3 linked regions of the Homo sapiens genome follow. The protein of the gene in region 1 interacts with the protein of each later gene in a pairwise test. Each region holds a gene or a part of one and is shown on either strand. Other genes may lie near its edges.

Evidence for each region.
Region 2: the proteins of CRIP1 (region 1) and SH3GL3 interact in a two-hybrid assay, tested with the Homo sapiens proteins (one large-scale study listed by BioGRID and IntAct).
Region 3: the proteins of CRIP1 (region 1) and VOPP1 interact in a two-hybrid assay, tested with the Homo sapiens proteins (one large-scale study listed by IntAct).

The regions. Positions count from the first base shown.
Region 1 is NC_000014.9:105,485,244-105,488,989, forward strand, and holds CRIP1 (cysteine-rich protein 1), read left to right. Parts: upstream 1-1,642; 5' UTR 1,643-1,729; intron 1,730-1,955; 5' UTR 1,956-2,016; coding exon 2,017-2,056; intron 2,057-2,922; coding exon 2,923-3,017; intron 3,018-3,087; coding exon 3,088-3,145; intron 3,146-3,227; coding exon 3,228-3,268; 3' UTR 3,269-3,273; intron 3,274-3,419; 3' UTR 3,420-3,704; downstream 3,705-3,746. UniProt on the Homo sapiens protein: Seems to have a role in zinc absorption and may function as an intracellular zinc transport protein.
Region 2 is NC_000015.10:83,565,721-83,569,366, reverse strand, and holds part of SH3GL3 (endophilin-A3), read right to left. Parts: intron 839-3,646; coding exon 695-838; intron 1-694. UniProt on the Homo sapiens protein: Implicated in endocytosis. May recruit other proteins to membranes with high curvature.
Region 3 is NC_000007.14:55,485,378-55,489,023, forward strand, and holds part of VOPP1 (WW domain binding protein VOPP1 isoform 1 precursor), read right to left. Parts: intron 1-3,646. UniProt on the Homo sapiens protein: Increases the transcriptional activity of NFKB1 by facilitating its nuclear translocation, DNA-binding and associated apoptotic response, when overexpressed. May sequester WWOX in lysosomal vesicles and thereby regulate WWOX role as tumor suppressor.

The sequences.
Region 1 (3,746 bases):
CCCTGGGGCTTGGGGGCAGCGCACGCCCCAGGGAAAGTGCAGTGACAGAGCCCCCGGCCTCCCCAATACTGTCCGGGCTCCCCTGGCCTCTCCCCCTTCTTGGTGCCTCTGCCTCTCCCTCTGCTTGTCTGCAGGTTTGTCCCACGATGCCCCACACTCAGTGGAGATGGCAGGTGGGCCCAGACCTCAGAGTGGGTTTCAAGGCTCATGGGCTGGAGAGTGGGGGTTCCAAGTTTGCAGGACAGGAGCGCACCCCTACTCTGGAAACCTTATCTCTGAGGTCTCAGAATGGGGGATGAGGAGGGCTCCAATGGGCCCCTGTGGAATGTCCTATCAGACCCCAGGACTTAGCCCCAGTCGGGGGACAGAACTGTGGCCTTAGAGGGGCGCCAGGAGGAGGGCAAGCAGGATGTGGCCTTGGGCTGGGTGTGCTGGTGTGGGGCTCTCTGGAGTGTGGCCTCTGTGCCAGACGCCTGTGCCTTGGCCGTCCTACAGCCCTGCTGCCCCTGCCCTCTCCCCAAGCTGGGGACTGGTGGCAGACAGGGCAGGGCAGGCGGCTTCTCTTCCTCTAAGTGCAGGCCTCGAGGTGCCGACAGGGGTGCGGTAGGATTCAGGGAAAGTGAGGTTGGGATCACAGGTGCAGTTAGGGCTCAGGGCCCGACAGCGGTAGGCCAGCGGCTCCTGGGGCCCAGGAGGATGGTCTCCAGCGCCCCCAGCGGGGACAGGGCCAGCACAGGCCCAGTGGAGATCGAGGGGAGATAAGGACGCTGGTTAACATGGCTGACAGGAGGGATGGTGGGTGGGGAGGAAGGGCAGCACCGCCCTTGTGCTGTGGGAGCTCCCAGGGAGCTCCATGCAGCATGGAGGTGAAGGGCCTGCAGAGAGAGGGCTCCCCTGCTCAGTGACAGGAGAGGGGGCTGACAGTGACCTGGGCTCCCTTCCTGAGGCTGGCCAGTCAGCTAGAGGGCTGACCCCAAAGCCCGAGGCCAGCGCAGCCCCCTTGGCCCTCCTGAATCTGGGGGGCGGGTGAGGCGGGACAGACTCCGCCTGGCACCGGGACCATCCTCCGCCTCAACTTTGCAGCGTACTTGGACCGCTCTGGCCGCCCTGGGCGCTACCCGCAGAGATAAGGGCCCCTCCCTGCGCCCGGTCCGGGCATCTCCGAGCCGGCCTGGGGGTGGCTGAACTCTCTTTTGCCGGCCGAAACCCCAGCCCCCGCAGCCCCCGCAGCCGATCGGTCCTCAAGCTACAGCTCCCCTCTCTGGGAGTCCCCGCTTTTGAATTCCCCGGGGATGTTCCCGCTGCGGTCCGATGGACCTCCCAGAGCAGCGGAGGTCAGGGGAGCTAGCAGAGGCGGGGACGTCCCTTGGGAGTGAGGGGACTGACAGGGGCGGCCTCGTAACCCTGCGTGGGATGGAAGGTCAGAGTGGGTTCCTCGGTGGGGGGCAACAGCGGGGGCTCTCCGGCAATTGTCCCCGACCCTCCGTCCTGGGGAGGGCAGGATCAGCGCGCGGGCTGCTTTGCATCTCTTTGCATTTTAGTGATGTTTGGTCCAGTCCTGGCCCGGGCAGATCTGGGGTTCGGGCGGGTGCCGGTGGGGTAGGGCTGGGGGTGGGAGCGGCGTTTCCTGCTGCGGGTGAGCCTTTTGCCTCGGAACTGGACCCGGGAGACATCACAGCGCTGGGCTAGGGGCGCGGCTTGAACTCGCCTAAAGAGCTGCGCCCTCTCAGTAAGTCCCCATGGCCCCCTGCCCCCCCGCGCTCCGTCCTCAGTCAGGCCCGGGTCCTGCCTGAAGGCGGGGGTGGACCAGATGATCTTTCTTGGGCCCTGGGCCTAGATTCGAGGTCCCCAGGGTCCAAGTCCTGGGTTCAGAGGGCGGGGCGCGAGGGGCGGGGTCTCCAAGGGGCGGGGTCCCGGGGTCCCTGAAAGGCGCGGACCAGGCCGGATCCACCCAGTCTCGCGCCTGCAGCCCGTGCCGCCCCAGCCGCTGCCGCCTGCACCGGACCCGGAGCCGTCATGCCCAAGTGTCCCAAGTGCAACAAGGAGGTGTACTTCGGTGAGCGCGCCCACACCGGCCCCGCGAGGAGGCGCCGCCGACGGGGCGACGAGGCTGGGGACCGCTCAGGAGGACCGGGGGCGCTGGGTCCCTGGGGCGGCGCCCCAGCCTGAAAACGCCTCAGCCTGGCCCGCCGCCTGCCCCGGGATGAGGGTGGAGGCCCCTGCGTCCGAGGGCCCTGGCGATCTCTGCCTGCTAGTGGTCTTGCTGTGCTCGGCGGGCTACCTCTGGCTCTGAGCCTCCCCGTCTCTGGGTCCTACGGTCTCTGCCGTTTCCTCTCAGGCGCGCCCTGAGTGGGGGACCCGCAGGGCTGGAAGGAACGCGGGGCTGGGGCCGCGCCCCCCAGCGCTAAGTGGAAACAGACGCGGAAACCGACGCCCGGGGCGCGATCCCGGGCGCCCGCCTCCCTGCCCCGCGCCCGCGCGCCCCGAGGGGAGGGAGGAAGTGGGAAGTCACCCCTGTCCCCGCCGAGAAGGGCTGTCGCAGGCTCCACCCTTGCCACCGCAGAGGCCCGGGGCTGAAAGCAGGCAGCCAGGCCCAGGCCCTGCTGACCTAAGCCGCGACCCCTGACCCTCGGCCTCGCCCTCTAGCCCCACCCAGCCTTCAGGAGCAAGATTCCCGGCCGCACCCGAAAGTGCCCCGGGGACCAGCGACCCCGCGCTTTGTTTAGTTGTATTGGCTCTGGGGATTGGAGATGTTCCCCTCATGGAGGGTGCTGAGACCTTAGGGTGGGCTGCCAGGCTGGGCGGATGCGGGCTAAGTGCACAGGGCCTTGGGCAGAGCTGGCTGCAAGAGGCGGGTACGCCAGTGGTGGGTAGGCGCCGCGTCCTGCAGCGTCTCACCGGGGCCTGTCTGTGCCTCTGCAGCCGAGAGGGTGACCTCTCTGGGCAAGGACTGGCATCGGCCCTGCCTGAAGTGCGAGAAATGTGGGAAGACGCTGACCTCTGGGGGCCACGCTGAGGTAGGTGGGACCCACCCTGGTGGCAGGGGCCAGGGGTGATGGCACCCCCTCACGGCCCTTCTCTTTGCAGCACGAAGGCAAACCCTACTGCAACCACCCCTGCTACGCAGCCATGTTTGGGCCTAAAGGTATGCTCCCGTCATCCCCACCCCACCCCACCCCACAGCCTCCTCCACCCCAGCCTGTTGACTTTTTCCACCTTCTCTGCAGGCTTTGGGCGGGGCGGAGCCGAGAGCCACACTTTCAAGTAAACCAGGTAGGTAGGACCCCACCCCCTATCCTGCCTCCTGGTTCCACCCTCGGGATGGGGATGCCCCCTCCCAGGGAGGCCTGACCACTCGTGGGCCCCAAAGGAGGCCGTGGACGCTGCACTCACGTCTGTGCCTGTCTCTCTCTGCACAGGTGGTGGAGACCCCATCCTTGGCTGCTTGCAGGGCCACTGTCCAGGCAAATGCCAGGCCTTGTCCCCAGATGCCCAGGGCTCCCTTGTTGCCCCTAATGCTCTCAGTAAACCTGAACACTTGGAAAACCTGTGTGTGTACATGCGCGTGTGTGCTGGGGAGTGCCAAGGGAGCTGCAGTGGGGTCCTGGCAGCAGGCTCTGCCACCGGCGCCTGCTCTTCTGCTGCCCATTGCCCTCCCCAGGGGGCCGTTCCAGGGTCTCATAGGCGAGGGCTCCCTGTGCAGGGTGAGTCCAGGCCACCCTAGACAGCCCGCACCCAGCCCTGGC
Region 2 (3,646 bases), on another chromosome or scaffold:
AATATTATGTAGCCATTAAAAACAATATCATGGAAGATTAATTATTTTACGATATGGATCATTATATAGTCAGTGTTACCAAAGAGTATATGTACTATAGCCTTACTGTAGTTTTTAAAAGTACATATGAATACATATAAGAATAAACAAGGCATAAAAGATACACAACAAGCCAAGTGCAGTGGCTCACTCCTGTAATCCCAGCAGTTTGGGAGGCCGAGGCAGGCGGATCACTTGAGGTCAGGAGTTCAAAACCAGCCTGGCCAAAATGGCGAAACCCTGTCTCTATTTAAAATACAAAACATTAGTCAGGCATGGTGGCTTGAGCCTGTAATCCAGCTACTCGGGAGGCTAAGGCACGAGAATCGTTTGAACCTGGGAGGTGGAGGCTGCAGTGAGCCAAGATCGCGCCACTGCACTCCAGCCTGGGCATAGACTTTGTCTAAAAAAAAAAAAAAAAAAAAGATACACAACAGAGTTTAATTGGGCCTATCGGTGGATATGGGATTATGGGTGATGTTAGCATTTTTCTTTATTTTACTTACCTATGTTTTCTAAACCTCCTGCAATTAACATGTATTACTTTGGTAATATGGAAAAATAACAAAGGTTGTTAGACTGAAGGGTTTGTGTATAACCTAAAACCATACTGGAGGAGTTCTCAGCTCCCCCAGCTGATCTCTGAATAACTCACCAAAGGTGGAGTCTTCCCCGAGCTCCTTCCCGTATTTCAGCATACAGTCCCCCAGCAAGCCTTCCGTCTGCGGGTATCCTGTGGTCTTCACCTGCCCTCGGATCTTCGACACAGTGTTCAGCATTCCTAGCTTAGCTCTGTATGCTTAAAAACATTGTCATTTGTAATTCTTTAAAGTTACAAGGTGGAGTGACAGGTACATAGAATTTAATAAACGCAGCTGCCAAAACTGAGGTCACCTTAAACAAAATGCCAGAGACCTGAGGCCTGAAACAATTGTGTGTGAACTATTTAATTTTCTCAGGTAATTTTCTAGGTTCTTTACCAAGGTGGGTGCTAAGTGCACTGTTCCGCAGCCACGATGAACCATAGAAATGATGGTGCACATCGGCTGGGCGCAGTGGCTCACACCTGTAATCCCAACACTTTGGGAGGCCGAGGCCGGCAGATCACCTGAGGCCAGGAGTTCAAGACCAGCCTGACCAACATGGAGAAACCCTGTCTCTACTAAAAATACAAAAAATTAGCTGGGCGTGGTGGCACATGCCTGTAATCCTAGCTACTCGGGAGGCTGAGGCAGGAGAATTGCTTGAACCCGGGAGGCGGAGGTTGCAGTGAGCCAAGATCGCGCCATTGCACTCTAGCCTGGGGGACAAGAGCGAGACTTTGTCTCAAAAAAAAAAAAAAGAAAGAAAGAAAGAAAGAAAAAAAAAAAGAAATGATGGGGCACATTGCTGACTTGAAATAATAGTGACCAGGCTTTCCTGAGCACCACCCCTCGAGTGAGACCCTTTGGAAAGCTTGCAGTTGCTGACACGTGAAGTCAGACACTGACACCTGTGTGACACTGACATGCTTTTTGTTTGTTTGTTTAAATGTAAACAAAAATAGAATTGCCGAGGAGGATATTTCAAACAACCAACTGGTCATTAACACACACCACATGCGCGCGCACGCACACACACACACACTCTGCTCCCAAGGACTGATTGAGCCTAATGATTTTCAGTATTATGGCAGGCAGGTGCTGCTGTTTAGGAGGCAGAATCATAGGAGGGGACAGACCACCCCACCCCTAGTGAACACTAGCCTTGTGTGGCTGGTCCCAAGGTGCAGCTCAGCCTCTGCTCCCTAGGGAGGTGATGCGCATCACTGCGTCTTACCTTCCTTTCCTTCCTCTGACTCAGGCAATGAGTATTTACTCATTGTTGCACTGGGCCCTGTGCAACAACACACTGTGCTCATTACTGGGACTCCAGAGACAGGCTTTGCCCTCAAGGAGCTCAAAGTCTAGTTACTGGGAGGCAGAATATACAGGACATAATTATGAAAATAAAGTCCAGTGTGGTGCAGGGCAAGGGAAAGGCGGCAATATGCTGAAGAAAGATGGAAAGATGCCCTAAAAAGTACAGAGAATGGTGTCAGTAACGTGTAGAAGAGGGAATACTGTGGCATAATCAGTGGACAAGGAGTAGGCTGGTTTGACCTAAAATGCTATTAATACAGGACAAAGTGGGAGATAGCTATGGGAAAATGTGACTATGAATTGAACACCAAGCTAAGGATTTGAGATTTCATCCTGTAGGTGAGAGAGTGAATCACATACTAGTTTGTGGTATTTGAGATACTTTTAGATAGTCAAGAGATACACTTTTTTTCCTACTTTAATAATTTTGTACTATTTTTAATGTATTTTAAATCAATGCCTCCAAAACTTTAATGTGTATGTAAATAACCCAAGGATCTTGTTAAAATGTAGAGTGATTCCATCGGTCTGGGTTGAGCCTAATTCTGCATCTCCAGCAATAGAATGCACTGTGAGTAGTGACATTCCCGTGCCAGCTGTGAGTGCCACTCACATTCACCTGACATTCACAGTGCCAGCCTTTTTTGTTGTTGTTTTGAAACAACAACTGTTGCCCAGGCTGTAGTGCAGTGGTATGATCATGGCTCACTGTGGCCACAAACTCATGGGTTCAAGCGATCCTCCCACCTCAGCCTCCTGAGTAAAAATAGGACTACAGACGTGTTACCACACCTGGCTAATTTTGAAAATGTTTTGTAGACATAGAGTCTTGCTACATTGCCCAGGCTGGTCTTGAACTCTTGGCTTCAAGCAATCATCATGCCTTGGCCTCCCAAAGTGCTGGGATTACAGGCATAAGCCATTGTGCCTGGCCAGTGCCGGACTTTTGAACCTCACATTTATCCTCAAAGCATTTATCCTCCAGGTCCCCAAGCCCAAAGGCTTCACTCTCACACACTACACACACACACACACACACACACACACACACACACACACACTCTCTCTCTCTCTCTCTCTGCCCATCTTTCCCACTGTTGGAGGGGGATGTGGGATGCAGCAGGTATGTGGGTGAGAGCCATTAAACTGGATAAGAGGTTGCTAGGGCTGCCTCTTCTCTAGGAATAACCAGAGACCTCTAGCCAGTGGTGACACTTTTATTGTTGGCCAACACTTCCTTATCCCATTCAAGAGTCAGCTGGTTGAGGGTGAAGTATCTGTCTGATTTCATAGTGTACTCCAGCACCCCGAAATCCTCTAGTGCAGAGAAAGCACATATTAAATATTTGTTGACTGATATATCAGGAAAAGAAATTTGTGTGGCTGATTTCAATCACTGATGTGGCCAGGGAGGAGAAGATATATTTTTATGGTTTTCAAAGCTATTATCATCAATACAATTGTAAAGAACTTTAGACCTGCCTGGATACACCTGATAAAATTTATATTCTTAAATTTTTACTTTCTCAATTTTCAAATGGTTAGGTTTGTGCTGATTCCTACAGTCAAGGGAATCACAGGAACTCTACGCAGATAATAAATTCCTAAAAAGGAAAGGTGGCTTTAGAAATCCACAGAACTCAAAGCTTGGGCGCCCTCTATTGGTTCCTATAATTTACAACCTGGGAAAATCTCATCAATAGATG
Region 3 (3,646 bases), on another chromosome or scaffold:
AAGAGAAAACATGACACAGAACTGAAAGTCGATTTAAGGTTGAGAAGGTAAAAGGCAGATAGAATGGAAATGCATGTCATATTTTTGCTGAATTTCCACAGGCAATCTGAATGTGTATGATAAAAGGGACTTCCAAATTCAGCCTTTCACTTTGGGTGGTGCAGCACCCACGTTTTTCTATGAGAGGAGGTCGGAAGTCACTGTCGCCCTGTCCTCATCCCAGAGCTGCAGGCCGGGGACAGCTGCCTCATAACCCCGGCTGTCCTGTGGCTGCACTGTGACGCCACACAGGGCCCACACAGGGCGCCCGCACACGGGACGTGCACACAGTACATTCACAGAGCACTTAGTGACAGACGGCAGGTTGGACGTGTTAGGCACAGGGACCTCACGTGGGGCTGCAGACCTCATTGCAACAAGGGACCTCCAGTCTTGTTTGGCCCACATTTTCCCTCATCCGCCCCTCGGAAGGGCCGGACGCAGCCATTTCAAATATTAATACATTTAGGGAGAAAAGTGCAATGGTAGACTCGGGAGACAAGGGATCTGAAGGAGGCTCTGCTTCCCACGGGGAGAGGAATGCAGCCAGCGAGGCGGGCGGGGGACCTGTCAGACCCAGAGCTTGCGTGAGCAAATGTGAGGGAGACCCTTGGTACGTGCAGTGTGTCCCTCCAGATGCAGGCACCCATGAGTGGACCACGACGGGCCAGAGGCTCCGGCTCCACCTCAGCCCCATCACTGGCGAAGCAGAGGACAGTGGGCAAGGGACTTAAATCTGCTGTAAGTTTCTGTTCCCACTGATCAAAGATCATAGATGTGCAAGCTTTGTTGTGAGTAATGTAACAACAGGAATTGCCTACCAACAGGGCAGGCTGTAAAAAATTCTTCTTGAAATACAGTCTGTGCAAAGTGTGTTATCTGTCATAATTTATAGTGGCTAAGGACATTAAATGCTTTCACATGGATAAAAAAACAGCTGCTGCTTTTGTATGGCAGAACATTCTAGATGTATCCACTTTATGCAAACTGGGCTGTGCAAACCATAATAGCAAGGCAGAGGTCACAGGGAGGGGAGGGGCAGCACGGGGGCTGGAAAGAGAAGTGCCGCGTAAGAATAACGGAGACAGAGACAGAATGTCAGATGCACAGAGCTGGAGGACTTTGTGGAAACACATTCCTGCTGGTGAGGAGGCCCGCCATATTGGGAGGCCATCTCAATTCCTGGGCGTCACCAAGTAAGACAGTTCCCACACCCACACCCCCTCACCCTGACCCTGATCAACCAGTTTCCTTCTGCCATCAGGGATGAACAGGTAAGGAATATTCTGGTAGCCATGAGAATGTATGAATAGATTGGCATTGGTGATTTGTAAACAAAAAAGTATTTCCAGTTAATTTCTTTCAGCAAAACCATAAACTCAAAAATCTCTATCCTGAAGGCAGCTGCCCAGGGCAGCACAGGGCAGGCAATGAGTGTGAGACCCCACAATGCAACAGACCCTTACAAACCCCCCAAGGCCACACACCCTGGGTCCATCTGCCCTGCTGTTTCTTCAGGAAAAAACCCAGAATGGAAATGCTGGAGCCCCAGGGGCTGGAGACCGGGGAGAGGTGGCCTGTAAGGCTGTCCCATCACCATCCCCGCACGTCAGAAGCACCGTCACGTTGGAAAAGAATGACGCTTATTCCACCAGTTCTGAAGCCAGATGTCCTCACAACCGAAGCAGCCCTGTTTGTGCTTGGGCTATGACTTGAGGGTAATTAAACTGTCAAAACACCCTCCCTACTATTTCCATTTTCTTGCAGTTGGTGTCATTTAGTCACTGCAGGCTGACAGACTTATTACAGGATTGAGACATGAGAATGAACAGTCAGAAACCTATAAATGAACTCACCACAAATGGCTGCTGGAAAGGAAGAAAACTATCTGTCGATGGGAAAACTCCATCCACTTCAGTCACATTAAAGGAAATCATTTTTAAAGAAAACTTGAATCACATTAACACCACAGATTTCACTGACTGTCCTCCGCAATCTCTCTCTATGTATCTGTGGAATTCCATAGTTGAACTCATGACCATTTTTTAGAGGCAGGGTCAAGCTATGTTGCCCAGGCTGGAGGACAGTGGCTATTCACAGGCTTAATCACAGTACACTACAGTCTTGAGCTCTTGGCCTCAAACCATCCTCTCACTTCAGCATTCTGACTGGCTGGGACTACAGGTGTATGTCACTGGGCCTGGCTAGCCTCATGACCATTTCACAAAAAACACTATCCAATGCTCTCTTCCCTAACTGCACCTTGATGGTCTTGCCGTACCAGCAAATTGTCTTGATCTTGACTATGAACTTTAATGGCCACATAATATTCCACAAAGAAGATGGACCATAATTCAATCATCGTTTTCTTTGGAGCTCCCTTAACCACCCCCTTGCCACATTCAATCACAGGGGCACCACACTCAGCTGAGGCCACCTCCTGCCAGCCAGCCAGCCAGCCCTTCCTTCCCCCAGGCCTACAGTGCTGCCTCAGCCTAGGCTTTTACATTTTCTCCACCGTTCTACAGTTCCTAAAGAGCAGGGAGGATTCTCACCCACACCCTCCACCTGTGTGAACACAGTGGCTGGAGCTAGTTAGCTCATGTTTTCAGAGTGAGTGAATAAATGAATGAAGACAATTTTTTCCTCTCTACCCAGGAAAACATATTGGTGGGACCCTGCCAGCATCCTGATGGGGAAGGATTTGGGGTTGGGCATTTAGGGAGCTCTTTCTGCTGCTGCTGCATCTTGGCTGACACTATATGCATAGATTACACAGAATGAGGAGTGCTTTTCTGCACACCGTTTCATTTTGCAGTTAAGGTGCTGAGGTTTAGAAGGGACCGTGGCCTACCCTGGGTCTCACAGACCTCAGGCCTCTTAACTCCCTGACCAGGGCCTCTTCCTCAAACCACAGCTACTCCACACTCCTCCCACTTTCCAGCCTCTGCACAACCCGGCCAGGCCCTGAGCCCTTCGGCCAGCAGCTGCAGCCTTTGGGTCCTGGTTCCTGGGCTGGCCTGGAGCCCCACCTCTGAACCTCAGCCTCCTGCTGACTTTGCCAGCCCCTTTCCACCACGTTCAGAGTTCTGCCCCAACCCACACCAACCCCCAGGACCACAATGCTGCCAATTTCCTCCCCTCCCCGACCAGAAGCCTCTTTGCAATGCACAGATTCTCTGCTTTCCCATGCTCATCAGTGATGCTGGTCCCAGCAGGAGCGCCATGCGAGCCCCCCTACACCCCAGAATATGAGCCACTGCCCCCCCTGCCCCAGTGGGTGAGTCTGGGTCCTCTAAATCCCTCTGCTTTTTCATCTTCATTAACAGGCATCCCACGCCTGAACCCACTTCCCCTCTCAGACCAGCAGAGGAAAAATGGGGCTCTGCTGAAAATTCACTAACACCCACCCTGCTTTGTGCAGATGCCTGCACACCTTGGCACTGCCCGGACAGCCTCAGGCATGACATTTACCCTGTGGACCACATGGGACATTGGGATTCCTCGGCTCCTCTCTCTCCCTGGACTGCCAAACTCTGTGTGGCCCTCCTCTCAGTCCCCACGCCCCCAGGGCCCATGCCACAGATAGTCTGGGATCTGAGCAGAC